Linked DNA regions of Homo sapiens. The protein of the gene in region 2 purifies or fractionates together with the protein of the main gene of each other region. This does not show direct contact. Each region holds a gene or a part of one and is shown on either strand. Other genes may lie near its edges.

Evidence for each region.
Region 1: the proteins of PHLPP2 (region 2) and WDR48 purify together in Homo sapiens (affinity purification with mass spectrometry; 5 studies listed by BioGRID and IntAct, with this or other methods). This does not show direct contact.
Region 3: the proteins of PHLPP2 (region 2) and USP12 purify together in Homo sapiens (affinity purification with mass spectrometry; 3 studies listed by BioGRID and IntAct, with this or other methods). This does not show direct contact.
Region 4: the proteins of PHLPP2 (region 2) and TRIM46 purify together in Homo sapiens (affinity purification with western blotting; 2 studies listed by BioGRID). This does not show direct contact.

Annotation. Positions count from the first base shown.
Region 1 is NC_000003.12:39,055,016-39,062,042, forward strand, and holds part of WDR48 (WD repeat-containing protein 48), read left to right. Parts: intron 1-7,027. UniProt on the Homo sapiens protein: Regulator of deubiquitinating complexes, which acts as a strong activator of USP1, USP12 and USP46. Enhances the USP1-mediated deubiquitination of FANCD2; USP1 being almost inactive by itself.
Region 2 is NC_000016.10:71,651,677-71,658,703, forward strand, and holds part of PHLPP2 (PH domain leucine-rich repeat-containing protein phosphatase 2), read right to left. Parts: coding exon 6,977-7,027; intron 6,688-6,976; coding exon 6,557-6,687; intron 5,006-6,556; coding exon 4,895-5,005; intron 3,759-4,894; coding exon 3,564-3,758; intron 1,346-3,563; coding exon 1,114-1,345; intron 1-1,113. UniProt on the Homo sapiens protein: Protein phosphatase involved in regulation of Akt and PKC signaling.
Region 3 is NC_000013.11:27,091,797-27,098,823, reverse strand, and holds part of USP12 (ubiquitin carboxyl-terminal hydrolase 12), read left to right. Parts: intron 1-2,993; coding exon 2,994-3,223; intron 3,224-7,027. UniProt on the Homo sapiens protein: Deubiquitinating enzyme that plays various roles in the regulation of the immune response and inflammation.
Region 4 is NC_000001.11:155,176,848-155,183,874, forward strand, and holds part of TRIM46 (tripartite motif-containing protein 46), read left to right. Parts: intron 1-84; coding exon 85-228; intron 229-347; coding exon 348-443; intron 444-1,154; coding exon 1,155-1,408; intron 1,409-1,644; coding exon 1,645-1,766; intron 1,767-1,961; exon of another isoform or gene 1,962-1,999; intron 2,000-2,784; coding exon 2,785-3,087; intron 3,088-3,587; coding exon of another isoform or gene 3,588-3,655; exon of another isoform or gene 3,656-3,832; intron 3,833-5,004; coding exon 5,005-5,302; intron 5,303-6,949; coding exon 6,950-7,027.

The DNA.
Region 1 (7,027 bases), on a different chromosome or scaffold from region 2:
ACATTATTTGCTCTTATACATCAAAAAGAAAACTTCTCATCTTGGAAAAAGCATACATGGGTACTTGGAGTAAATATACTTTGTCTCCTGACTGTCTCAGACCACGAGACAGTAGCCCTGAGCTCCTTGTCAAGTTGTAGGCCAAGACAAACCCTTGAGACTTAAAAATATTGCTAAATAATCAGTGGAGGCCAGGCGTGGTGGCTCATGCCTGTAATCCCAGCACTTTGGGAGGCCAAGGTGGGCAGATCACTTGAGGTCAGGAGTTCGAGACCAGCCTGGCCAACATGGCGAAATCCCGTCTCTACTAAAAATATAAAAATTGCCGGCATGGTGGCGCATGCCTGTAATCCCAGGTACTTGGGAGGCTGAGACAGGGGAATCGCTTGAACCCAGGAGGCGGAGGTTGCAGTGGGCCGAGATTGTACCAGTGCACTCCAGCCTGGGTGACAGAGCGAGACTCCATCTCAAAAATAAAATAAAATGATACTTAAAATCAGTGGAGAGGGGTCCAAACATACTGCATATTAATTGTAGACATAATTTTAAATGAGTCCATGTCCTACCATCTTCAACTTCTAGGAAAACTAGAGATACGAGGGAAGAGGGATGGATTTGTGACTGTCAGAAACATAATCAAATATGTGAATTCAGATACATGATGTAGCATTTTCTCTGGTAACCAGGATATCAAAGCAAGTCTTTTCCATCCTTAGCAGTCCCTTGGTGGTATGATTTTCCAGCAACCTGAGTCTGTTGATTGGCTCTCTGTGCCTCCATTTTTCCTCCTGTTATGGCCTCTTCCTTCAGTGCTTCACAGTGCTTGGGGAAAAAAAATACTTCGCTTAACTTGCTGCCACTTCTAGTTAAGCTCTTTCCCCAGCTAAATGCCAAGAGGACTTTTGTGCTCACTACCGTATCCTCAGCATTTAGAATAGTGCCAGGCAACAAGTGGGTGCCTAGTTAATATTCGTTGAAAGAATTAAATCCATTTTCCTCTATTTTTCTATAGCCAGACATTTTAAATTTTTTCTCTGTACTTTAATGGATGCAGATAACAAGTTTTTAAGGTGACATGTCTTGAAACATATCAGCATATATAGTTTTCGTTCTTTAATGACCACATAGAATGGATGTACCATAATTTGTCTAGCCATTTCCTTATTGAAGATATTGCTTTGATTTTTTTTCCATCATACTATAATTTGCTTTGAAAAAACCTCCAGTTATAAAATAGTAAAGGAAGTGTTACAAAAATAAATGAAAGGACAAAGATAGATAATACAGAATGCATAAAAGATGAGGGATCAGTTTGAAAGTTCCAGTATCTGACTCATTTGAGTTCAAGAAAGAGCAAAGAAAACAGAGATGATGATTAATAATGGATACAAGAAAATTTCCCGGAGCTTAAGTGCCGCAAATTTCTAGATCGAAGGGGCTTTCTAAATGCACAGAAAAACTAATGATAGAAAAAACAAACAAGAAATGTCACAACACCAAGGAAAAAGAGAAAATCCTGAAAGCTTAGGGAAGGAGATGACGAGGGAGTGGAGGAAAGAATGAAAATAGGATCCCTTTAAAGCTGTATGAAACAGAATGGCATTGAAATCAGTGGCAACATTGGATGCTAGAGGAACTTACAGCAATGCTTTCAAGAGCTGAGAGAATTGCTAAATCAAGTGTAAATGTGGAGGAAAGACCTTTTCAGGCATGCAAGGACTAAGTTGCCAACCCATGTGCCTTTTCTTATATTACTTTCTTAAGGTATTGGGGATGTATTTCAGCAAAACTATGGAGTGAACAAAGAAAGAAGGAGGCATTAGAATTCAGGAAACAATGGCTGTAACCCAGAAAAGCAGTAAAGGAAAACACCAAAGGTGACAGCTGTGCCAGCAGATCTAGAGGGCAGTCAGCCTAGATTGTAATGAGAAGAAGGAGGGTTTGGAGGGGGAAGCCTTCTGAGAAAATAAAGGGGTGGGGGTGAGTTCTGTGGTACAGCAATTAAAATTGAAATTAAAGTGGAGAAAACCATTGAAGAAGGAAAAATTAAAACTCTAGGGAAAACAAAAAGCTCTTTGAGGAAGGAAATGTATTCATAATATAGTACTTAGTAGATAGCCTTACAGTCACAACAATATAGCACGGATTATTTGTTCAATTAAAAATAGGGATGTATCTATATTAGAAGAGTAGAGGGAGGAGATATTGAGGGTAGTTTCAGAACTACATCCTAATCTACAGTAGCATGAGTAAATCGATAATGTCTAAAATGGATGAGCCAAAAAGTTATAGGATAAGCACAATATTTAGAGAAATGCAGTTAACTATCCAGTAGCAACAACTGAGTTGCAATTAGTTACCTTTAGGGATGAAGACTAGGTGTGGGAGTCTTATCCAGACAGTAGAGAGACTGTTTTTCATTACAGTCATTACTATTTGATTTTCTAAATACAAGCAGGAATTACTTGGATAACAAATGATCAAATTTTAAAAACTAAGTAATACATGTTGTTTGTAAAACATTCAGAACACATGAAAGAGACATGAATGAGTGAAAAATCACCATAATCCCATCATTCAGAAATAACTGCTGGTTATTTTATTTTATTTTTATTTTTATTTTTTTGAGACATTGTCTCACTCTGTCTTAAGGCTGGAGTGCAGTGGCACCGTCATGGCTCACTGCAACCTCTGCTTCCTGGGTTCAAGTGATTCTCCTGCCTCAGCCTCCTGACTAGCTGGGACTACAGGTGCGCACCACCACACCCGTCTAATTTTTGTATTTTTAGTAGAGACGGGGTTTCACCATGTTGGCCAGGATGGTCTTGATCTCCTGACCTCGTGATCTGCCCGCCTTGGCCTCCCAAAGCTGGGATTACAGGCATGAGCCACTGCGCCTGGCCCCTGGTTATTTTTATATATGTATAGTCTTCAAAACTTGTGTATTTGTTCTGAAATATTTAATATTTTGAAACATTTTTATAATAATGACTATTGTACATTGTTGTGTTGGACCACACATATTTCACTAAAAATATATCATGGCTTTCCGCCCATGTTTATCAGTCTAGACCTCCATCAACTCTTTCTTATTCTTTAGAAACAGGGCTCTCATGCTGTTGCCCAGGTTGTAGTACAGTGGTGCCATCATAGCTCACTGCAGCCTCAAGCTCCTGGGCTCAAGCAGTCTTCCCACCTCAGCCTCCTAAAGCACAGAGATTACAGGCATGAGCCACCACACCTGGCCTACATCAACATTTTAAGTGATTGAATAGTGTTGTGTTTTACAGATGTGCGTGCTAGAATTTATCCAACTAGGATACTTCTAATTCTTTTGCATTTTAAAGCACACGTCTTTAGGAAATACCGTTGAAGAGGTTGGCCCAGACTGGTTTTAACAGTAATTACTTTCCACCTAGAATGAGAATTCTGACATTCAGGTTATTCTTTCACTCTTGCCTTAACCAGTCAGATAATCTCCCAGAAGTCTGGATATCAAGATTTAGATATGCTGCACAGTCTCAGTTAAAGGAAATGTGAGCTAGGTAAGCAGCCCTGGAACCCCAGAGAAAGAGAGATTGAGAGAGGCTGAAGTTGACATTGAAGCTAGCTTGGTTCCTGGTGGCTTTGGAAAGCCAATTCATGCAATGATACGTATGTCTTTTATATGCCAGACACTATAATGGGGGCACAGGGGTGGAAGGAACAAGGCAGACAAGTCCCTTGCCTTCTTGGAGCTATTATTCTAATGGAGAAGATACACCAAAAAATATAAATGTGGCTGGGCGCGGTGGCTCACACCTGTAATCCCAGCATTTTGGGAGGCCAAGGTGGGTGGATCAGAAGGTCAGGAGTTTAAGACCAGCCTGGCCAAGATGGCGAAACCCTGTCTCTACTAAAAATACAAAAATTAGCTGGGCGCCATAGCAGGCACCTGTAATCTAAGCTACTCGGGAGCCTGAGTTGGGAGAATTGCTTGAACCTGGGCAGCAGAGGTTGCAGTGAGCCAAGATCGCACCACTGCACTCCAGCCTGGGCGATACAGTGAGACTCCGTCTCAAAAAAAAAAAAAAAAAAAAAATACAGAATGTGGTAAGAACTGTTAAATAAGTAATGTAAGATAGATAGGGTCATAACCCTGAGGAGAATGAGATCAGAAAGGCCTTTCCAAGGAGACCTTTCTCCTAAGATCTGAAGAGTAAGGGTGAGTTAGACAAGATGAAAGCTGGAGAAAGAGTATTCCTATAGGGATTCGAGGGGTGGTGAATCTTCATGACACTGGCAACAGTAAATGAGAAGGTACTGGGATGGGAAAGAGCTTGATGTGTTTACGGTAACAGAAAGGAGTTTGGAATGACTGTCATAAAAGAAGCTGGGGGCAGTCAGTTTGAAATGAGTGGGGGATGCAGGGTCAGAACTAAGCATTTGAGGAGTTTGAACTTTAAATTTTGTGAAAAGCCATTGGAAAGTTTCAGCAGAGAAGTGTCATGATTTGATTTTTTAAATGCCTCTTATAAATGATGACTGTATTTCCTGACCTTGGGCTCTGTTAAGATATCCTTGTGTTGAAGTCTCCTTTAAAAAACAAACAAACAAACAAAAGCTGGTTTGAGTAGATCTCAGTTACAGTTAATTGCATCCAAAAGACTGGGTTAAAACAACATCCTTGTAGCTATTTGTGTCTGCAGCCCTGGCCCTTTTTAAAGGACAAATTTCTGGAAATTGAATTTTAAAGAACATTTCAAAGAGTTTAAAACTTTTGTCAGAAAGTGTTTATTTATCCTCAGGGGAAACAAAAATGGCAGTTATTTTAAAAAATTCTTGTATTATAGGTAAAATAATCTCATATTAATTTTGTCTTTGATTATTTATGGGGTTTTTGGCCATTTCTTTTTTAAAAAGTCCCTTTTTGTAACTGTCCCTCTTTCTGTTGGTAAATTTGACTTTTTCTTATTTTATAAGGAATCTTGTTAAGAGTAAACTTTCTTTCATATTTATTTCATTATTCTCTTAGTCTTGCTCGTGTTACTTTTTGACATTCAGAAGGTTTAAGAAAATAATAACATTGTGATAAAATTCACATACCATAAAGTGCACCCTTTCAAAGTGTACAATTCAGTGATTTTTTTGTATATTCGGAAAGTTGTTTATTGGTCACCTAACTCCAGAATGTTTAATTACTCTATGTTCATTAGCAATTACTCCCCGTTTTTCATTTTTCCCTCCTTCAATCTCCTGGCAATTACTAATCTACTTTCTGTGTGGATTTGTCTATCCTAGACATTATATATAAATAGAGTCATAAAATATGTGGCCTTTTGTAAAATATGTGGCTTCTTTCACTTAGCACATTTTCAAGGTTCATCCACGTTATAGCATGTGTCAGTACAGTGTGTGTGTGTGCATATATATATATATATATGCACACACACACATCACATTTTATTTGTTTTGTCCATTGATGGATATTTGGGTTGTTTCCACTTTTGTAACATTATTGTGAATGCCACAATGCTGTGAACATTCTTGTACATAGAAAAGGTTTTGACTTGTATTTGGCCAGATCACCATTGCTCTTTTCCTTCGTAAAGATTACCATCTTTCTTGGCATGTTGGAAGAGTTTTCTCTGGCAAGGGACTATGTAAATATTCACCTGTCTTTTAAAAATTATTTTTATGCTGGCCAGGTGCAGTGGCTCACGCCTGTAATCCCAGCACTTTGGGAGGCTGAGGCGGGTGGACCACTTGAAACCCAGCCTGGCCAACATGGTGAAACCACCATCTCTACTAAAAATGCAAAAATCAGCTGGGCACAGTGGCATATGCCTGTAATCCCAGCTACTCAGGAGGCTGAGGCACGAGAATTGCTTGAACCTGGGAGGTAGAGGATGTAGTAAGCCAAGATCGGGCCACTGCTTTCCAGCCTGGGTGACAGAGCAAGATTCTCTCAAAAAATAAAAACAAAAATTATTTTTATGGTTATTAAATTTCAGTCTTTAATTCATAGAAAAATTCGTTTTTGGTTTAAGATGTGGAGAAAGGGTATAATTGTTCCTAATAGAATCACTATAGGTACTTGAGATAATTTTTTTTAATTATTATACTTCAAGTTCTAGGGTACATGTGCACAACGTGCAGGTTTGTTACATAAGTATACATGTGCCATGTTGGTTTGTTGCACCCATCAACTTGTTATTTACATTAGGTATTTCTCCTAATGCTATCCCTCCCCCAGCCCCCTACCCCCCAACATGCCCCAGTGTGTGATGTTCCCTGCCCTGTGTCCATGTGTTCTCATTGTTCAGCTCCCACTTACGAGTGAGAACATGTGGTGTTTGGTTTTCTGTCCTTGTGATAGTTTGCTGAGAATGATGGTTTCTGGCTTCATCCATGTCCCTGCAAAGGACATGAACTCATCCTTTTTTATGGCTGCATAGTATTCCATGGTGTATATGTGCCACATTTTCTTAATTCAGTCTATCATTGATGGACATTTGGGTTGGTTCCAAGTCTTTGCTATTGTGAATAGTGCTGCAATAAACATACGTGGGCATGTTTCTTTATAGTAGAATGATTTATAATCCTTTGGGTATATACTCAGTAATGGGATGGCCGGGTCAAATGGTATTTCTAGTTGTAGATTCTTGAGGAATCGCCACACTGTCTTCCACAGTGGTTGAACTACTTTACACTCCCACCAACAGTGTAAAAGCATTCCTATTTCTCCACATCCTCTCCAGCATCTGTTGTTTCCTGACTTTTTAATGACTGCCACTCTAACTGGCATGAGATGGTATCTCATTGTGGTTTTGATTTGCATTTCTCTGATGGCCAGTGATGATGAGCATTTTTTCTTGTGTCTGCTGCAGAAATGTCTTCTTTTGAGAAGTGTCTGTTCATATCCTTTGCCCACTTTTTGATGGGGTTGTTTTTGTTGTTGTTGTTGTTGTACATTTGTTTAAGTTCTTTGTAGATTCTGTATATTAGCCCTTTGTCAGATGGGTAGATTGCAAAAATTTTCTCCCAT
Region 2 (7,027 bases):
ATTTTGTTTCCTTAGATGAACTCTAATATAGAATTCTGACAAAACAGCCCAGAAATGGACCCACACAAATACAGTCAACTGATCTCTGAAAATCAAAGAGCAAAGACCATACAAAGGATAGTCTTTTCAACAAATGGTCCTGGAACAAGAGGACACCTACATGCAAAACATGAATATAGATACAGAGCTTACACTTTTCACAAATATTAACTCAAAACAGACCATGGACCAAAATGTAAAACACAAAACTAAACTTCTAGAAGATAACACAGAAGAAAATCTAGGTGACCTTGGGTTTGGCGATGAGTTTTAGATACAATACCAAAAGCACGATCCATGAGATAAAAACTGACAGGTGGGCCTTCATTAAAACTAAAAGCTCTGCAAAAAAACACTGTTAAAAGAATGGAAAGACAAGCCCCAGACTGGGAGAAAATATTTGCAAAACAGGTATCTGATAAAGAACTTGTTTCCAAAATATACAAAGACTCTTAAAACTCAACAATACAGAAACAAACAATCCAATTTACAGTTCTCAAAAGATCTGAACGGAATTCATCACGGAATTCCACTTTGTGATAAACAATGTTCACAAGTAATTGCTAAAGTTCTTCTGAAAGCAAAAATGTTAATTTCTAAAAAAGGAGAAAAGCTATAAAACAGTAGAAATACTGATGTTTCATTATCAAAAGAGAACACCAGAGCATACTACACCACATAGAGTATAAACACAAAACATTTTGAAACTTTGCATTTCAGAATGGGGATGTCAAACTAGAGAACTCTTTCTTCTATTTGGAATAACAAACCAGATGAGCTGGAAATTAGCTAAGGCAGATATTTAACATCCATCTTACAACCCAGCTATCAATATACAGGATCACAAATTAGGATTTTGTATTTCTAATTCACTTTGCTTTTTCTTTGTGCTAGTCACTAACTGATCAGATTTTCCTCCAGTACTGTTGCTGAAACCATCTGCATTGAACTTTTATCTGGATTGGATACAATTTACAGGGCATGATAGGAAGAAAATGGGCCTTCATCACCTCTACACAAAGCAGCCTCCACTGATTTGGGGAGCAGAAGTGACTGGCGGGGAGCGGAACACACCTCTGTGATGATGGCTTTTTGGTCCTTCACCCTTTGAGCCTCCTCTGGGTCCTGCTCCAGGCTGAAGACTTTAGAGAGGGGCACTGGCTTCCCACCTCGGCACAGGACTGCTTGGCACGTGCCAACATTGGCTACAGTCAAGCTAAAGCTACTTGCTGGATCGGCAGTGTCAGGGCGGATGTAGCACAGGAGAGCGGAGGAGCCCAACTTCTGGCCAGCCATTCCTAATTTCCTGTTCAGAAAGAAAAGGAAAAGAAGACGTGGTGGCTAGTTTTAGAAGAAAGTGGTGGTCCTGCACGTACATCCCTTCTTTTTTTTTTTTTTTTTTTTTACCATGTGATCGTGAACCAGCCTTACCCTTATCCACCTAAATGCAGACTTGCTGTGGCTGATGGTGGTGGAGACAGTTCTGCCTTCCACTCTCGCTGAGGAAAAGGTTTTACAAAAGGGAGATAATCTCCCTTTTGCATCTTTCTCCATAGCTTTTGTGTCTGATCAAAGACTTCCTAATTCAGGGGCTCTCAAACTTTAACACATCAGAATCCCCTGAGGGCTTGTCAGAACAGGGACTGCTGGGCCCTAGGCCCAGAGTTTCTGAATCAGTGGGTAAGAGGCTGGCCCAATAAACTATACTTTAAGCAATTTCTGGTGAGGCTGAGAGGCTGCTGTTCCTAGAACAACACTTTGAGAACCACTCACTTAGGTTCTAAGTTCCTCGAGGGAAGGACCATGATTCTTGCATTTCCCCCATATGCAGGGCATCCACGCGTCTGTACTTGGAAACAATGTTAACGAGGAACAGACACTAGCAGAAAGACCTAGTTTCAAATCTCAGCTCTGCCATTTTCTGGCTACAGACACTCAGCAAGCCATTTCTCCAGGAAATTTCTCTGATAAAATATATAGCATGGAAAATACTTGCTACAATTCCTGGCTTGAGTTGCTTCATAAATGGAGTTCCCTTTCCTAAACCCTTTATTTTTGCAAAGTCTCTAGCTCAATTATACTACTGAAAAACTGACTTCTTCCTAACACTTTGCTTTGTGTTATGACAGATAAAACTAATTCAAGCCCATCCTGGCTAACACGGTGAAACCCCATCCCTACTAAAAATACAAAAAATTAGCCTGGTGCAGTGGCTCACGCCTGTAATCCCAGCACTTTGGGAGGCCGAGGTGGGCAGATCACGAGGTCAGGAGATCGAGACCATCCTGGCTAACACGGTGAAAACCCATCTCTACTAAAAATACAAAAAATTAGCCGGGTGAGGTGGCGGGCACCTGTAGTCCCAGCTACTCGGGAGGCTGAGGCAGGAGAATGGCGTGAACCCGGGAGACGGAGCTTGCAGTGAGCCGAGATTGCACTACTGCACTCCAGCCTGGGGGACAGAGCAAGAAGACTCCGTCTCAAAAAAGAAAAAAAAAAAAAAAAAAAAAAAACTAGTTCAAGCTCCAAGCTGTTCCATTTCAACCTGGATTATACAAGTTGACAAACAACCTCTCAGTTGTTCCTATCCTTTATCGGTCCACCTGACATGCAAATGCTCCATTACAGTTAGGTTATACAGATGTCCTCAACTTATGATGGTTCAACTTAAGATTTTTTGACTTCACGATGGTGCAAAAGCAATACTGTATGCATTTAGTAGAAACTGTACTTTGTATTTTGATCTTTTCCTGGGCTAGTGACATGTGGTACGATGTTCTCTCATGATGCTGGGCAGAGGTAGCGACCCATAGCTCCCAGCCAGCCACTTGATCACAAGGGTAAACAACCAATACAGTGCCCTGTGTCACCACATGATTTTGCCCAACTATAAGCTAATGGGGTAAGCGTTCTGAGCACACTTAACGTAGGCTAGGTGAAGCCATGATGTTCGTTAGGTTAGGTGTATTAAATGTAGTTTCTACTTACCACATTTTCAACTTATGATGTCAGGCTTACATCCTTATCAGGGTGTAACCCTATTCTAAGTTGAGGAGCATCTGTATATGGTTTTTGCCCTTAAGTGGCTTATACTTTACTTAGAAGATTAGTTTGGTAAAACCCCAGAAAGAGGCATTCTAAACGTTATCAATCTGATAAGTATTTGGTTAACTGTTTTGTAGGTCACTGACTGCTTGGACAATCTTATGAAAGCTGACCACCTTCCTCCTCAAAATGTACAACCACATATATATACACACACAACATTTTGCACATAAATTCTGGGCTTCCCAGATCCTCAGCAGCCTTTGGATTCAACAGAGAAAACAGATGACCCCCACAGGCTTTTGAAAGAGCCGAAGTCCCCGCACTCCATGCTCATATAGAGAATGATCATAGAAGACAACAACGTGAGTTCTCTCCTTGATCCTGTATCCATAATTTAGACCCTGACCTTCTGGTTTAGAAAAATATATTTTCCAAAAGTAGAACTGAGTTAGGGATTTTTCAACCCACCTGCTTACCTGTGAGATACCAAGAAGGTGTTAGCCATGAAAACTGTGTCATTAGTTGACTGCTGTACCTCTTCTAAAAGCACATCTGCCATCGTACACTGCAGCAGGCGCGGGAGCTCCTCATTTCGGTCTCCATCAAACATGCCATACACAGCTCCCACCCCCTCTGCAAAGCTATCCATAGCAAGTGCTGAGACACACAGCCTATAATAGAAACATGAAAACAGAAAACAGAAAAGTTACTGGTAAAATATTATTCTCCAGGGAGCATTCTTTTTTTTTTTTTTTTTGAGAGGGAGTCTTGCACTGTCACCCAGGCTGGAGTGCAGTGGCATGATCTTGCCTCACTGCAAGCTCCACCTCCCAGGTTCACGCCATTCTCCTGCCTCAGCCTCCCGAGAAGCTGGGACTACAGGTGCCTGCCACCACGCTGGGCTAATTTTTTTGTATTTTTAGTAGAGATGTTAGCCAGGATGGTCTTGATCTCCTGACCTCATGATCCGCCCACCTTGGCCTCCCAAAGTCCTGGGATTACAGGTGTGAGCCACCGCGCCTGGCCAGGAGCATTCTTTTAAAAAGTAAGTATTAATTAAAGGTGGCAAAGACTACTAGCAAATCGTAATCTACACGTAAGAAAAGTCCCTAGACATGATAATTAAGCAACATCTGAAAGAGCTAATGTCCTAAGGAAAGGGGAAACAGTCGCATTCATGGGCAGTACATATTAGCTTTGCAATGCTGCCAAAGGCTGGTAAGATAAAGCACTTTCTCTTAGTAGTGACTAAGGATTAGCTTTGTCAAGGCCTATCAGTCAAAGACCACCAGAGCACACCTATGGTTGAAAAAGTTGAGTTTATTACCCCTTATAGCAAATGAGAGTGCACCCCATGGAACCCCGGGGTATACAGGTAAGTCTTGCTGAAAAGAACCCAGTATAGGGTTTGGACTTTGGTTTGGTCACTTTGGGGAGGGTCTAAGGAAGAGGATCATACTAGACTGGGTGTCATCAGAAAGTGAGGCCATTCTATTGCTGGGTATAAAACTTATCTATAGGGAAGGAAAATTAGCAGAAGGATAAAGCTGTAACTGGTAAAGAAAGTAGCATCTACCCATCTTAGCCATGAAAGGGGGTGTTTGGTATTCTGTTGACTACACATTAGTATTGTTTTTGTCTTAAAACGTTATCATGATCCCAAAGGGATCTTATCTGACGCTGATGTTCTATGATTTGTCTGTGTACAACAGAACAACATGGCCTAGCTATTATGAGCATCAGGCCAGTTCTCAGATGCCAGGGGCTGCCTTTTTTCTTTCTCAGTCTCCATGGCCAATATACTCACTTATTTCTCTGCCCTGCCATCTCAGCCAGTCCATGGCTCCAGAAGGTTGACGTAACTGTAGAATCTGTGGTTGGCAAAGGTTTCTGATCAATTTTCAGGGTTGTGATATGGCTGTGGGAGGTGAAGGAAGATTAAACCATATATTCTTCTGTATTTTACAAAAACTATCCCAACAATAGTATTCTTTTTTTTTTTTTGAGATGGAGTCTCCCTCTTGTCACCCAGGCTGGAGTGCAGTGGTGTGACCTCAGCTCACTGCAACTGCTGCCTCCCGGTTCAAGCAATTCTCCTGCCTCAGCCTCCTAAGCAGCTGAGATTACAGGTGTATGCCACCATGCCCGGCTAATTTTTGTATTTCTTTATTTTATTCTATTTTATTTATTTATTTTTTTGAGACGATCTCCCTCTGTTGCCCAGGCTGGAGTGCAGTGGCGCAATCTCGGCTCACTGCAACCTTCGCTTCCTGAGTTCAAACGATTCTCCTGCCTCAACCTCCCAAGTAGCTGGGATTACAGGCACCTGCCGTAACAACCAGCTAATTTCTGTATTTTTAGTAGAGACGGGGTTTCACCATGTTGGCCAGGCTGGTCTCGAACTCCTGACCTCAAGTGATCCGCCCGCCTCGGCCTCCCAAAGTGCTGGGATTACAGGTGTGAGCCACCGCTCCCGGCTAATTTTTGTATTTTTAATAGGGATGGAGTTTTGTCATGTTGACCAGGCTGGTCTCAAACTCCTGACCTCAGGTGATCCACCCACCTTGGCCCCTCAAAGTGCTGGAATTACAGGCGTGAGCCACCACGCCCGGCCAACAATAATATTATCTTTTTTTTTTTCTCTTTTTTGAGAAGGAGTCTCGCTGTGTCGCCCAGGCTGGAGTGCAGTGGCGTGATCTCTGCTCATTACAAGCTCCGCCTCCCGGGTTCACGCCATTCTCCTGCCTCAGCCTCCTGAGTAGCTGGGACTACAGGCGCCCGCCACCTCGCCCGGCTAATTTTTTGTATTTTTAGTAGAGACGGGGTTTCACCATGCTAGCCAGGATGGTCTCGATCTCCTGACCTCGTGATCCACCCACCTTGGCCTCCCAAAGTGCTGGGATTACAGGCGTGAGCCACCGCACACGGCCAATAATATTATCTTTTAATAAAATAATCTATGGACTGACTAAGATTCATTTCCAGAGAGACTGATGAAAGTAGTATGCTGAACTACTGGCAAAGAAGGAGGGGAGAGAAAGGAAAGGGGTAGGAGGATCAAAGGGGTAGGAGTTTCAATAAAAAACTAAGCACAACAAAGATTTCTATGTTTTAGCCAACCATCTATTTATGTTAAGTATTTTGATACAATGAAGTCTTGGTACAATGGATGAACTTGTATTGTCTCTTAGATATTATATAATCTGTGCCACCTAAAACATCTATGCCTGTTGTGAAAATATTCAGTATGTTGGGGGGTAGTAGCCATGGAGTAGTCCTAATATAAACAGGTTGACTACTGGATAGAACATCTATTCATAACTTAATCAAAGAAGAGAACCTAGGGGCTTTATAGCCTAACTTCATTCTGTTCTTTTAATTAATCAAGATCTCCACAGTACTAAGGAAGACCTACACATGGCTGGTGGGCTAAGAGCACATAGAGATTCCATTTCAAATTTTTTCCTACCTAAATATGTCCAGTGTCTTGTGTTCCAGAACCAGATTTGTATTTCCAGTCAGGTCAAGGTCTTGTAATGTAGCAGGCAAAGCCTCTGGAATCAGGATTTCTGTCAAGTCGTTGCAACTTAGGTCTACAAACTAAGAAAAAATTGAGAAATCAAAAGAAAATACATCACAGAGACTTAGTTCTTTACTCCCAAGTGTCCAATCTCTTACTATATCCCCAAAGAGGAACTTAATTTCTTCCCAGGAATCCATTACATAAATTCTGGTCCCAAACTGGAGCACATAAGAAGACAATAATATTTTTCCTTATAAGAATAATCTCATTCACACTCCTTTCTTCTTCTTTATAAAAGGAAAATAATGTCATTCACTCTCCTGCCATTTCCCCCAATAAGGACATCATTCCAGCACACAGAAGTACCTGGATCTGAGGCAACTGCAGTATTTCTGGGAAAATGCTGATGTTGTTGGA
Region 3 (7,027 bases), on a different chromosome or scaffold from region 2:
ACAAAATTATAGCATAATTTAAATAAATCATTCTCCTGTTGATAAACATTTAGGATATTTTCAGACTTCTGCTGTTATAAATAAGCAGCCGTATTTATGCTTGTTTTGGTACATGCACAGATACTTACCTGGCATCGATACCTGGGAGAACTAGGTTGCATTATTTTAAATCTGTTACCAAAATTGCCTTTACAACGTGCCATACCAGTTTATACTCCCAGCAGCAACAGTTGAGAATGTCCATTTCTCCATACTCAAGCTAACACTGGATGGAAACTAAGTCAATTTTTATTTTGCCAAAGTGATGGGCAAAATGATATTTTGTCATTGTTTTAATTGTTATTTCCCAGTCCCTTGTCATGTATTATTTAGGCATTTGTATTTCTACTCTGAATTGGCTATTTTCCTTTGCCAGTTTTTAAAATTTTTTTTCTTGTTTTGTAAAGGGTTTTTTTTTAAATATTCTGTATATTAAACCTTTACATAGTCTGGATATTAATATGCAAATAATTATCCTTGTTCGTCACTTGTCTTCATTTATGTTGACTTTGCCATACAGAAGTTCATAGTTTTTACATAGTCAGTCTTTGATGTGTTTTGTATTCTGTTCAGTAGCAACAACAATTATATAGGTTGAGCATCCGTAATCCAGAAATCTGAAACTTTTTGAGCTGCATGATGCCACATGGGGTGGCTGAGGTAGTAACAACTTTACTTTCTGATGGTTCAGTGTACACAAATTTACTTCCCTGCACAAAGTTTTTAAAAATACTATATGAAGTTGCACTCCATCCTGGGCAACAAGAGCAAAACTCCATCTCAAAAAAAAAAAAAAAAAAGTACTATATAAAGTTACCTCCAGGCTATAAGGTGTATATGAAACAAATGAATTTCATGTTTAGATTTGAGTCACATCCCCAAAATATCTCATTATGTGTATGAAAATATTCTCAAATCTGAAGCAGTCTGAAGTCCCAACCACTGCTGGTCCCAAGCATTTTAGATAAAGGATATTCAACATGTAGTGATATTGCCAATATTGTTACTGTGGTTGTTGTTGAACAGAATACAAAACCTATTGTTGTATTCTAAGCACTTTTAATCTTCCTCCCAGCCTTGTGAGGTACAGGTACTGCTGTGAGCCCCATTTTTCAGATGAGGAATTATGGAACAGGGAGCTTGAATAAGTTGCCTATGCCACGCGTGCAGTTAGAAGTAGAACCATAGCACCAACCCAGACAGCCTTGCTCTAGCAGCTGTGCCCTCCTACCCCCATAAAAAGCTTCACTCATTCCCTTTCTGTTTTTACAATGACTTTGCAAAGAAAGATGGTATTCTGTTTTGTTGTTGTTGTTTTTGAGATGGAGTTTTGCTCTTGTTGCCCAGGCTGGAGTGCAATGGCGCAATCTCGGCTCACTGCAACCTCTACCTCCCGGGTTCAAGCGATTCTTCTGCCTCAGCTTCCCAAGTAGCTGGGATTACAGGCATGTGCCACCATGCCCAGTGAATTTTTTGTATTTAGTAGAGACGGACTTTCACCATGTTGGCCAGGCTGGTCTCAAACTCTTTACCTCAGGTGATCCACCTGCCTTGGCCTCCCAGAGTGCTGGATTATAGGCATGAGCCACTGCGCTTGGCCTGCTTTTTTTTTTTTTTTAAACTTACTATGGGATTGAACATTTTCTCATGTTTTTTAGCCTTTTGATTGTTTTTTTCTTATAAATTGATTGCCATTTATAAGATTGTCCAGTTTGGTTTTCTTTTATATGAGATTTGCTTTTATATGTTGAAAATGTTAATAATTTTCAGGTTTCACTTTTTTTAAAACTTTTTTAAAGATTTCTAATACATAGAACTTAATTTTATGTAGTCATATCTGTATCTCTTCTAAAATGTAATTGTTAATTTGTTTTATCTTAGACTTTCCCTAAATTTTTTTCTAAATTTGTATGCATTCATTTTTAAAATGTAAAATCTTTCTGGAACTTATTAAATGTACATTGAGGATCTAAAAATAAAATGTCCTAAATAGGTAATTTTTCTCAATGCATTTTATTGACCAATTCATGTATGTTCTTGTGTGTGGGCTTATACTGGGCATTACTTTGTGTGTGGCATGGTGGAGTCAGGCTGCCCAGTTTGAATCCTGGCTCTGCCATTTCTTGGCAGTGTGACTGTACTCTGTCTCGTCCCATTTTCATGTTTACAAATAAAGTTAATAACAATATTACATGGTTGTTGGGGATCAAATGAGATACTGCCTCTAAAGTCCTTACTGTTCTATGGTAGAGTTGTATATTGCCAAGCACAGGGTAAAGCACGCTTGATGTTAGCACCACCAATATTTCAGTTATATTTACTCATTTGTGTAACTGCAGGGAACGTTTTGTGGAATTATAAAGTCTCACATTTGGAAGGGACTTGAGATTATCTGGATTATATAGATAATTCTTGATAACATGATTCTTAAACCTGACTCTACATCAGAGTTAGTTGGAGGAGCTTTGAAAAGCCCCACGTTCTGGGCTTACCCCTTATCAACTAAATCAGAATCCCTGGGATGTATGGTTCAGTAATTTATTTTTGATAAACTTTGTGGGTCTAAAGCAGTTGGCTTGGCATTGGCAAATGGTTGTCCAACTTCTGCTTTAAAGCTTGCCAAGTTGAAATATTTGTGAAATAATAAGTCAGGTAAGCTAATAAGCAATTTCTTCTTAAATTCTCAGTATCTGTTATGCCAATATATAAGGATAGGTTTTGCCCTTTTCTCAGGATCAATTAGTAGTATTTTTAAACAAGATTTTAATTAATTTTACATTTTCCCCAAATACAGATAAAAGTTTTAGATGCGAAAGTTATTTGTTATACATTACAAAAACATTGTGCATTTATATTTTAGTTCTGATCCAATACTAGATATTCTTTTATAAATTGGTTTTTTATGAAGTTATGAATTCTGAAATAATTCTCTAATATAATGTTTTTATTTTCAGAGCTTTTTGACAACTACATGCAACAAGATGCCCATGAATTCTTAAATTACCTACTAAATACAATTGCTGATATTTTACAAGAAGAGAGAAAGCAGGAAAAACAAAATGGTCGTTTACCTAATGGTAATATTGATAATGAAAATAATAACAGCACACCAGACCCAACGTGGGTTCATGAGATTTTTCAGGGAACATTAACTAATGAAACCAGATGTCTTACTTGTGAAACTGTAAGTATATCATACAATTTTGTATAGAGAAAAATTGAATTACTATGTTAAAGGTTGTTCTTTGAGAAAGACAGAATGGAAGATGAACTTGAAAGTTGTAATTCTTAGGTATAGGAGTTAAAGATGTATTTTTCAGTTAAAAGGAATCTGTCTGTATTCTTAATGTAATGTTGCTTATTGACAATGAATACCTGAGGTGATAGAAAGATACTTACTGTAGCTTGAACTGTTTGATTTTCTTTCAGTTTAGGAGGCCATAGAACCATGTTGTGGAAATTATGTCTTATGACATAATCTCATAGGATCATACAGATCAGGGAGGCATATTAATTCGTTTTTCCTTTTTCTACGATTACCTTTAGTATCCATTGTTGGGATAAAAACTAAAGCATACAGTGTACCCTCAAGGAGGGGAAAAAATCCCACTTGCTGGACACTTTGTAAAGATGAAGCTTGAAAATTGTTACACCCAGGCTGGAGTGCAGTGGCCCAATCTCAGCTCACTGTAGCCTCGACTTCCTGGGCTCAAGCAATCCTTCCATCTAAGCCTCATAAGTAGCAAGGACCACGAGCACGTGCCACCACACCCAGCTAATTTTTAAATTTTTATTTTTTGTAGAGACAGGGGTCTTACTGTGTTGCTCAGGCTGGTCTTGAACTCCTGGGCTCAAGCAGTCTTTCCACCTTGGCCTCTCAAAGTTCTGGGATTACAGGTGTGAGCCATTATGCCCGGCCAGTCATGTTCTTTATAGCATTTTCCCTATTCAGTACAGAATCCAATTTAGAGGGGGACATTGCATTTAGTTGTTTCTTTAGCCTTCTTTAACCTGAAACATTTACATGGTCTTTTTTTTTTTGAGAATATGCCTCCCTCACCTTTTTAAAATCAGATGTTCTCATATTTAGTTTCTCTGATGTTTCTTCCTAACTAGATGCAGGTTATGCATTCATGGCTAATAATAATATATCATTCATGTTGTGTTTTTCTCGGGGCATCACGTCTGTAGGCACACAATATCCATCTGCCTCTCATTGGTGAAATTAATTTTTGATCACCCAGTCAAGGTGGTGGTGTTTCTCCATTTGATTTATTTATTTGGAGACAGGTTCTTGCTCTGTCGCCCAGGCTTTAGTGCAGTGACACTGTTATAGATCATTATAGCCCCAAGACTCCTGGGCTCAAGTGATCCTCCTGCCTCAGCCTTCTGAGTAACTAGGACTACAGTGCATGCCATCACCCCCAGCTAGTTTTTAAACTTTTTTGAGACAGAGTCTTGCTGTGTTACCCAGGCTGGTCTTGAACTCCTGCCCTCAAGTAACCCACCTGCCTCAGCCTCCCAGAGTGTTGGGATTACAGACATGATCCACCGTGCTGGGCCAGTTTCTCCACTTTATGATGACTTTTTTTTTTTTTTTTAAATCCCCTTGCAATTAGTAGGCAGTCTGTGGGGAGACACAAATACCTCCCTCCTCATCAAAATCTCACCCAAGATTTAGCATGCATTTATGATTTTGCCTGATCTCATCTTTACTGTGACAGTTGTGCTGCTAGTTTTTAATAACATTGGAAAATAGGGTCCACAAGCAAGAAAGCTAAGAGTCCTGTAAAGTCTCCATAGTTTTGCCTTTTCCAGAATATTGTGTAGTTGAAATCATATAGTATGCAGCCTGTTTGGATTAGCTTCTTCCACTTAGCAATATGCATTTAAGGTTCTTCCATGTCTTTTTAAGGCTTGATAACTTATTTCCTTTATTTTTGGCTGAGCAACATTTCCACTGTAAGGATGTGCTGCAGTTTTTAAAGTTCATTCACTTACTGAAGGACGTCTTGGTTGCTTCCAAGTTTTGCCAATTATGAATAAAGCTGCTATAAACATTTGTGTGCAGGTTTTTGTGTGGATGTGAGTTTTTACTTCCTTTGTGTAAATATCAAGGAGCAGGATCACTGGATTGTATGGTAAGAGTATACTTAGTTTGATAAGAAACCAACATTCTGTCTTCCACAGTGGCTGTACGATTTTTCCTTCTTACCAGCAGTGAATGAGAGTTCTTGTTTCTCCACATCCTTGCTGACATTTGGTGTTGTCAGTTGGATTTTGGCCATTCTAATAAGTGTGTAGTGTTATCTCATGTTAATTTGCAAGGCCCTAATGACATATGATGTTGATCATCTTTTTGTCTGCTTATTTATCATCTATATCTCTTTAGTGATGTGTCCAGATCTTTTGTCCATTTTTTAATCAGGCTGTTTTTCTTTGAGTATTGTCGAATTTTAAGTGGGTTTTTTTTTTCGGGTATAATTTTGGCTACTAGTTCATAATCAGGTGGGTCTTTGGCAAATATTTTCTCCCAGTCCGTGACTTGTTTTTCATTCTTTTAACACTGTTTTTGGCAGAGTGGAAGTTTTTTTTTTTTGAGATGGAGTTTCGCTCTCGTTGCCCAGGCTGGAGCGCAGTGGCTCACCGCAACCTCTGCCTCCTGGGTTCAAGTGGTTCTCTTGTGTCAGCCTCCCTAGTAGCCAGGATTACAGGCACGCGCCACCACGCCCGGCTAATTTTGTAATTTTAATAGAGACAGGGTTTCTCCATGTTGGTCAGGCTGGTCTTGAACTCCCGACCTCAAGTGATCCACCCACCTTGGCCTCCTAAAGTGCTGGAATTACAGGCGTGAGCCACCGGGCCTGGCTGGCAGAGCAGAAGTTTTTAATGTTTTAATTATCAGTTTTTAATTTTAATAAAGTCCAACTTTTTCTTTCATGCATTATACTTTTGGTGTTGTATCTAAAAAGTCATCCATAAACTAAAGGTCCCTTAGAATTTCTCCTATGTTATCTAGGAATTATATAGTTTTTCATTTTATATTTAAGTCTATGATCCTTTTTGAGTTAATTTCTGTATAAGGTATTAGAAAGTTTATTCTGGGTTAATTTTTTTGCATGTGGATGTCCATCTGCTCCAGCATCATTTGTTTAAAAGACAATTCTTTCTCTGTTGAATTGCCTTTGCTCCTTTGTCAAAGATGAGTTGACTCTTATTTGTGTGAGTGTATTTCTGGTCACTGTCTTCTGTCCTGTTGGTCCGTATATCTGTTCTTTCCCCACTACCACACTGTCTTGATTACCGTAGCTTTAGAGTAAGTCTTAAAGTCAGGTAGTCTCAGTCCTCTGACTTTGTTCTTCTTCAATATTTTGTTGGCTATTCTGGGTCTTTTGCCTCTCCATGTAAACTTTAGAATCAAGTTCGTCGATATCCACAAAATAACTTGCTGGGATTTTGATAAGGATTTTGCTGAACCTATAGATGAAGTTGGGAAAAAAATGATATCTTGACAAAGTTGAGTCTTCTTATCTAAGTACATGCACTGTCTCCCCTTATTTACCACTTTTTTTGCTATCTTTCATTGGAGTTTGGTAGTTCTTCCTCATATCAATACCATGCGTGTTTTGTTAGATTTATATTTAAGTATTCATTTTGGGGGGTGCTAAGCACCAACTATGCCAGGTAGAAGATGGTAGAAGATGAGTAAGACATAAGCCTCTGATCACAAGATACTCCTATGGTAATGAAGACTGGCAAAGCAGTGTTCAGGCAGTTCCAGTACAGTGTGTTATCGTATGTGTATGCACAGGATGCCATGCCAGCCAGAGAATAGTAGACCTAACCCAGGTGGGAGTGGGAAGGATTTGGACAGGTAAAGGACCAGCTTCCTGGAGGAGCTCATGCTTGTATTTTAGAAATGCAATTGGTAATGTCTCAGGTGGTAGGAAGCTGGTGTCTATAACACCCTTTTCTGGTGTTCTCTATG
Region 4 (7,027 bases), on a different chromosome or scaffold from region 2:
GAGGGCACCAAACTGCTGTAGTGGTAGCATAGCACCCTTACCCACACCATTGTCTGACCATCACATTGTTCTTTGTGTCCCTAGGGCCTTATGTGCCCAGACCACAAGGAAGAGGTGACCCACTACTGCAAGACATGCCAACGCCTGGTATGTCAACTCTGCCGGGTGCGGCGCACCCACAGCGGGCACAAGATCACACCAGTGCTCAGTGCCTACCAGGCCCTCAAGGTAAGGACCCCCCTTATCCAACCCTAGTGCTAACTCACACTCTTACCCTCTTGCACCTCCTCCCAACTGCTGGCTTCTGCAGAGCTGGGCTTGATGCCCACCTCTTTCTTCCCCCTCAGGACAAGCTGACAAAGAGCCTGACATACATCCTGGGAAACCAGGACACGGTACAGACCCAGATCTGTGAGCTGGAGGAGGCCGTGAGGCACACCGAGGTGAGGGAGGGCACAGAGGTAGGCCCTGGGCCCTGCCTGGGAGTAGGGGCAGGAAGGGGGTGTGGGTGATCATGACCCAATCACCTTGTTGCTAGCTCAGGAAGCCCGTGAGGTGTCCAGGTTCTGGTTAAACCAGGTTTGCAGGAACACCAGTGCCCCAGGCCAGGCTGTACCTGGGCTGCAGGAGGGGGCAGGGTGGCTATAGCTCAGGAGAGTGCTCGAAAAACCCCATGCATAGCTCAAAAAACCCCACGCGTAGCTCAGATGCTCTCAGGCTCAGGTGCCTACCGAGGATGTCACGCATTCCCAGTGCTAGAGTGAGGTGATGACTGATACCTTCTGCCAGGTTGCTTGAGCTGGCTGACATGGGGATGGACAACTAAGGATGGCATAGATGCCAGTGGACATTAATTAGTGCAGTCCAAGTGGACATTAGGGTAGCCATGGCCTCGTTCATTTGGATGAGTCACTAAGGGGCAGAGATTATGATGTGGGGTTCCGGGAAGGTTGGCACAAATGACCAGGAGTTGAGTCCATCTAGAGGTGCCTTTGCAGCCATGAGCCCAGGCCCTGTAGGAATGGGTGAGTAGGATTTCCCCAGATCCCTTGTGACCTTAGCCATGCTGTGGCATCCAAGGAGGCCAGCACAAGTGCTGCCTCCAAAAAGAAGATAGTAAGTCACGCATCCTTTGGGTGTTGCTCCCTGGGCAGGTGAGTGGTCAGCAGGCCAAGGAGGAGGTGTCGCAGCTGGTGCGGGGGCTGGGGGCTGTGCTGGAGGAGAAGCGGGCATCACTGCTTCAGGCCATTGAAGAATGCCAGCAGGAGCGGCTGGCCCGTCTCAGCGCCCAGATCCAGGAGCACCGGAGCCTGCTGGATGGCTCAGGTCTGGTGGGCTATGCCCAGGAAGTACTTAAGGAAACAGACCAGCCTTGCTTTGTGCAAGCCGCCAAGCAGCTGCACAACAGGTACTCAGGGGCATGGGCTCCTAGGGGGGCAGGGACATCATGGATGTGACCAACATCTAGGACAATGTCTACAGTACTGCCAGGTGGAGAACTGGCATTCTAAGGATTCTCATGAGGCCAAACTGATACCAGCTCCCAAAGCAGTTCCCAAGGCTCTAGGGGCAAGCAAGACAGAATTGAGGGGAAGGGAGACTGCCCACATGGCAGTGCCTGACCCTTTCTTGCCCCCATCCCAGGATTGCCCGAGCCACTGAAGCCCTCCAGACATTCCGGCCAGCTGCCAGCTCCTCCTTCCGCCATTGCCAGCTCGACGTGGGACGTGAGATGAAGCTGCTGACAGAGCTTAACTTCCTGCGAGGTAAGGAGATGGCCAGGCCCCATGCCCAACCAGAGCCTTCTTCCCTTCCTCCCCAGCAGCGGGCCCGGGGGGCAGTGCCTACCGGGGACCTCCCCGGCCTCCTGCCCGGCCTGGCCAGCCATTCCTCCCACCCAGCCCACCCTGCCACACCGTCCTACCGCGCTCAGCGCTGCTTCTCCCTCTCTTTGTTTGTAGGCTGTGGCCACCGCGGACTCTGCTCCGGAGCACCCCAGGCAAGTCAGCGGCCCTGCCCCGGGGGCCCTGCCCGCCGCCGGGCCCCCTTCCCACCCCGCTGCTCCCACGCATCTCAGCCAACCACTCATTGCTTCCTTCTCTTTCCTGCCTTGCCCCGACCTCGTGGTCCTCCCACTGGACCAATGCCCTGTCTCCCTTCTGCCTTCTTCAGGCGCTTGCGTAATCCTGGCCCTTCTGACCTTTTGTCCTTGTGACCCTTGCCCTCTGGCCTTGCACTTCCTTTCCCTTGACCTCCAACCCCTGCCCTCAGCTTTTGCTGTCCCTCTGTTGTCCCCACTTTCCACCTCGCTGCCTCCTAAATCTCTCTTCTGAGCCTGGTCCCCTTCCTTCCTGCTCAGCGCCCTCTTGCCTGTGGGCTCCAGTGGCCTTTGCCTGCCCCTCCCTGGGGCTCCTCTTAATTCATAGAATAACTGAGCTGCAAGGGCCCCCAGAACTTACCTGATCTGATACCCTCATTTGACAGGGGAGGAAACTGAGGCCCAGAAAGGGGAAGTGACTTATTCCAGGCCAGAGTGAGGTAGCAGCAGCCCAGAACTAGCACACAGGTGTCCTGACCCCCAGCCCAGCGCTTTCCTGCCTCGTTCTCTCTTGGGCCCTGCCCTACCCCTCCTGTGCCCAGTTCCCAGATGAGCCCTTCCCCAGCTCCCTCTCACCCACACTCACCCCCCCGGCTCCCGCTGCTTTCCCTTTTCCTGCCTGCCCCTGCCCTCCATGCCAGGCCAGTGGCCAGGCCCTGACTGACACCCGCTGTCTCTTCCAACAGTGCCTGAGGCCCCCGTCATTGACACCCAGCGCACCTTTGCCTATGATCAGATCTTCCTGTGCTGGCGGCTGCCCCCCCATTCACCACCTGCCTGGCACTATACCGTTGAGTTCCGGCGCACGGATGTGCCTGCTCAGCCAGGCCCCACCCGCTGGCAGCGGCGGGAGGAGGTGAGGGGCACCAGTGCCCTGCTTGAGAACCCCGACACGGGCTCTGTGTATGTGCTGCGTGTCCGCGGCTGCAACAAGGCCGGCTACGGCGAATACAGTGAAGATGTGCACCTGCACACGCCCCCGGCACCTGGTGAGTGGGCAGGCACAGGTGGTCGTGCAAAGGGCATGGGGTATGCCAGGGCCTAGGCCCTGACGGTTGGTTCCGGTGGCCGCTAGAGAGGCCATATAACATAGTAGGTCTCACACACACTAGCTCTGGAGCTAGACTGCTTGGGTTCAAATCCCAGCTCTGCCTCTTGCCAACTGTGTGGGTGGCTTCTGGCAAGTTTTTACCCTCTCTGAACTTCAGAGTCCTTTTCTGTAGGGATAACGATAATACTGGCCAGGTGCAGCGGCTCATGCCTGTAATCCTAGCACTTTGGGAGGCCAAGGAGGGAGGATTGCTTGAGGCCAGGAGTTCAAGACCAACCTGGCCAACACAGCGAGACCCGATCTCTAAAAAAATAAATAGGCCAGGCGAGGTAGCTCATGCCTGTAATCCCAGCACTTTGGGAGGCCGAGGCGGGCGGATCACAAGGTCAAGAGTTTGAGACCAGCCTGGCCAACATGGTGAAACCCCGTCTCTACTAGGAATACAAAACTTAGCCAGGCGTGGTGGTGCGTGCCTACAATTCCAGCTACTCGGGAGGCTGAGGTAGGAGAATCGCTTGAACCTGGGAGGCGGAGGTTGCAGTGAGCTGAGATCGCGCCACTGGACTCCAGCCTGGACAACAGAGCAAGACTCCGACGTCTCGGAAAAATAAATAAATAAATAAATAAATAAAGGCCAGGCAAGGTGGCTCACACCTGTAATCCCAGCACTTTGGGAGGCCAAGGTGGGTGGATCCCCTGAGGTTGGGAGTTTGAGACCAGCCTGACCAACATGGAGAAACCCCATCTCTACTAAAAATACAACATTAGCTGGGTGTGGTGGCGCATGCCTGTAATCCCAGCTACTTGGGAGGCTGAGGCAGGAGAATTGCTTGAACCCAGGAGGCGGAGGTTGCGGTGAGCCGAGATCGCGCCATTGCACTTCAGCCTGAGCAACAAGAGTGAAACTCTGTCTCAATAAATAAGTAAATAAAATACGTAAAAAATAAATTATTTTTGGCTGGGCACAGTGGCTCACGCCTGTAATCCCAGCACTTTGGGAGGCCGAGGTGGATGGATCACGAGGTCAGGCGTTCAAGACCAGCCTGGCCAACATAGTGAAACCCCGTCTCTACTAAAAATGAAAATGAAAATAATTAGCTGGGTGTGGTTGCAGGCGCCTGTAATCCCAGCTACTTGGAAGGCTGAGGCAGGAGAATGGCTTGAACCTGGGAGGCAGGGGTTGCAGTGAGCCAAGATTGCGCCACTGCACTCCAGCCTGGGGAACAGTGTGAGACTCCGTCTCAAAAACATATATATATTTTTAAAAAATGATAATGCTTACCTCATAGAGTTGCAAGAATTCAACTGGTTTGAGACGATCAATGGGAGTCTGAGTACAGTGTCCGGCTCATGGTTAGGGCTCAAGAATGTTACTAAAGTGACTAGAAAATAGTTCGGACTCCAGGGGGTGGGCATAAGAGGGAAGCCTTGCCACCCAAATAGGGGCTGGGTATAAGGGCCAGGTGTGAACCCAGAGTATGGGCTGGAAGGCACAGATTGATGGTGATGGGAATGTCACCAGGTGGAACAGAATAGTGGGAACTGTCCATGGGGCTGGCCACAAGTAAGGGGTTCGAGGGAGCCCCATGAGTCAGCCAGGTCCGGAGCACTGACTTCTGTGCCCACTGCCATCACAAAAACTCTCTGGGGTCCCACGCCCATTTGGAATGCCCCCTTCTTTTTTCCTCATGCCCCCCATTCCAGTTTCCCATGTCCTGTTCTCCTGAACCCCCTGCCTGTTCCTGGTGACTGAACCCCCTTGCAACGCGTTCCCTGTTCTGCAGTCTCACAGCCCCCAGTGCCAGTGTTTGTCCCTGAAGTTCTTGCTCCATCTCAACCCTCTCCCTCCTTCCAGTCCTGCACTTCTTCCTCGATAGCCGCTGGGGCGCAAGCCGAGAGCGGCTGGCTATCAGCAAGGACCAGCGAGCAGTACGGAGTGTTCCAGGGCTGCCCCTGCTGCTGGCTGCTGACCGGCTGCTGACCGGCTGCCACCTGAGTGTGGATGTGGTCCTGGGCGACGTGGCTGTGACCCAGGGCCGCAGCTACTGGGCCTGCGCCGTAGACCCAGCCTCCTACTTGGTCAAGGTGGGCGTCGGGCTGGAGAGCAAGCTTCAAGAAAGTTTCCAGGGTGCCCCCGATGTGATCAGCCCCAGGTCAGACCCCTCTGGAAGGGATGGGGTGTGGGGGTCCTGGTGGGAGTGAGGGGCACAGAAGGGGTGGCAAGTGGAGCACAGACTTGCTAGGGTGGGGCTGGGAGGGGATTAGGAGGAAGTAGTAGGAGCCTGGAAGCCAGGCTGGGAGGCCTGTGTCCAGGAGACGCATGGGCTCAGCAAAAGGGCTTTTGAGGACTGATTTTCAGAGCATGTCGTGTGGTCAGGGAAAGGGATGATAGAAGAGGGAGCCATCTCTGCTTCCTTCCAACCATCTGTCACTCTGGATCAACACACCATCTCTCCAAGCATCTGTGTCCTTTCTTCCTAACACTCCATTTCCAACATACCTTCTCCATAAAACCTTTGCTCTCCAAGACCTCCTTCACCCGTATCTTAAAATTCTTCCCTTAGCCGGATGCGGTGGCTCACGCCTGTAATCCCAGCACTTTGGGAGGCTGAGGCAGGCAAATCACTGGAGGTCGAGAGTTCGAGACCAGCTTGACCAACATGGAGTGACCCCATCTCTACTAAAAATACAAAAAAAATAGCTGGGCGTGGTAGCGCATGCCTGTAACCCCGGCTACTCGTGAGGCTGAGGCAGGAGAATCACTTGAACCCGGGAGGTGGAGGTTGCGGTGAGCCAAGATTGTGTCATTGCACTGCAGCCTGGGCGACAAAAGCAAAACTCCTTCTCAAAAAAAAAAAAAAAAAAATTCTTCCCTTAAACATCCCACCTCCATAACCCTCCTCTCCCCAACTCCCTGTTTTTTTTTTTTTTTGAAATGGAGTCTCGCTCTGTCGCTCAGGCTGGAGTCTAGCGGCGCGATCTCCGCTCACTGCAAGCTCCACCTCCCGGGTTCACACCATTCTCCTGCCTCAGCCTCCCGAGTAGCTGGGACTACAGGCACCCGCCACCATGCCCAGCTAATTTTTTGTATTTTTAGTAGAGACGGGCTTTCACCGTGTTAGCCAGGATGGTCTCAATCTCCTGACCTCGTGATCCGCCCACCTTGGCCTCCCAAAGTGCTGGGATTACAGGCGTGAGCCACTGTGCCTGGCCCCAACTCCCTATTTAACACCCTCCCACTAATGCTTTGCATCCTAAGCCTTCTCCCCAGCACTCTATCCCCCAACACCTTATTTCTTCAAAATGCTTTCTCCCCAACACAAACCCCTCCTAAACCCCATTGTCCCCAACCCCGCATACCTCTAACACCCTTCATTTGTGACACCAATCCACCCTCATCTCTCTCCCGACACCCACCTTCCCAACATCCTTTCTCTTCTTAGTCACTAATCTCGGATTCTTCCAATGTCCTCTAATCCTCAGAACCATCTCCCCAGCATGATTTCCCCAAGACCATTTTTCTCAATGCCTTTCCGCGGGCTATACCAATGCCATGTCTTTCCTGTCCGCCTGCCCCTCTCTTGCCAATGTGCTTTCCTCTCAGTGCTCTCTTTCCACCAAACCCAAACCCCTGACCCTATACTCTAACCCCTGCCTCTTCAGCGTTTTCTTCTCAACACCCAAAATCCATCCCTTCAACCTCTTGCTCCTTAACATTCCATCCTTCCAGCGTCTCCCTCTGGTACCTCATCCGTCACTCCATCCCTCAACAATCTCGTCCCCAACACCCGCTTCTGCAGGTACGACCCGGACAGCGGGCACGACAGCGGTGCCGAGGATGCCACAGTGGAGGCGTCGCCACCCTTCGCTTTCCTAAC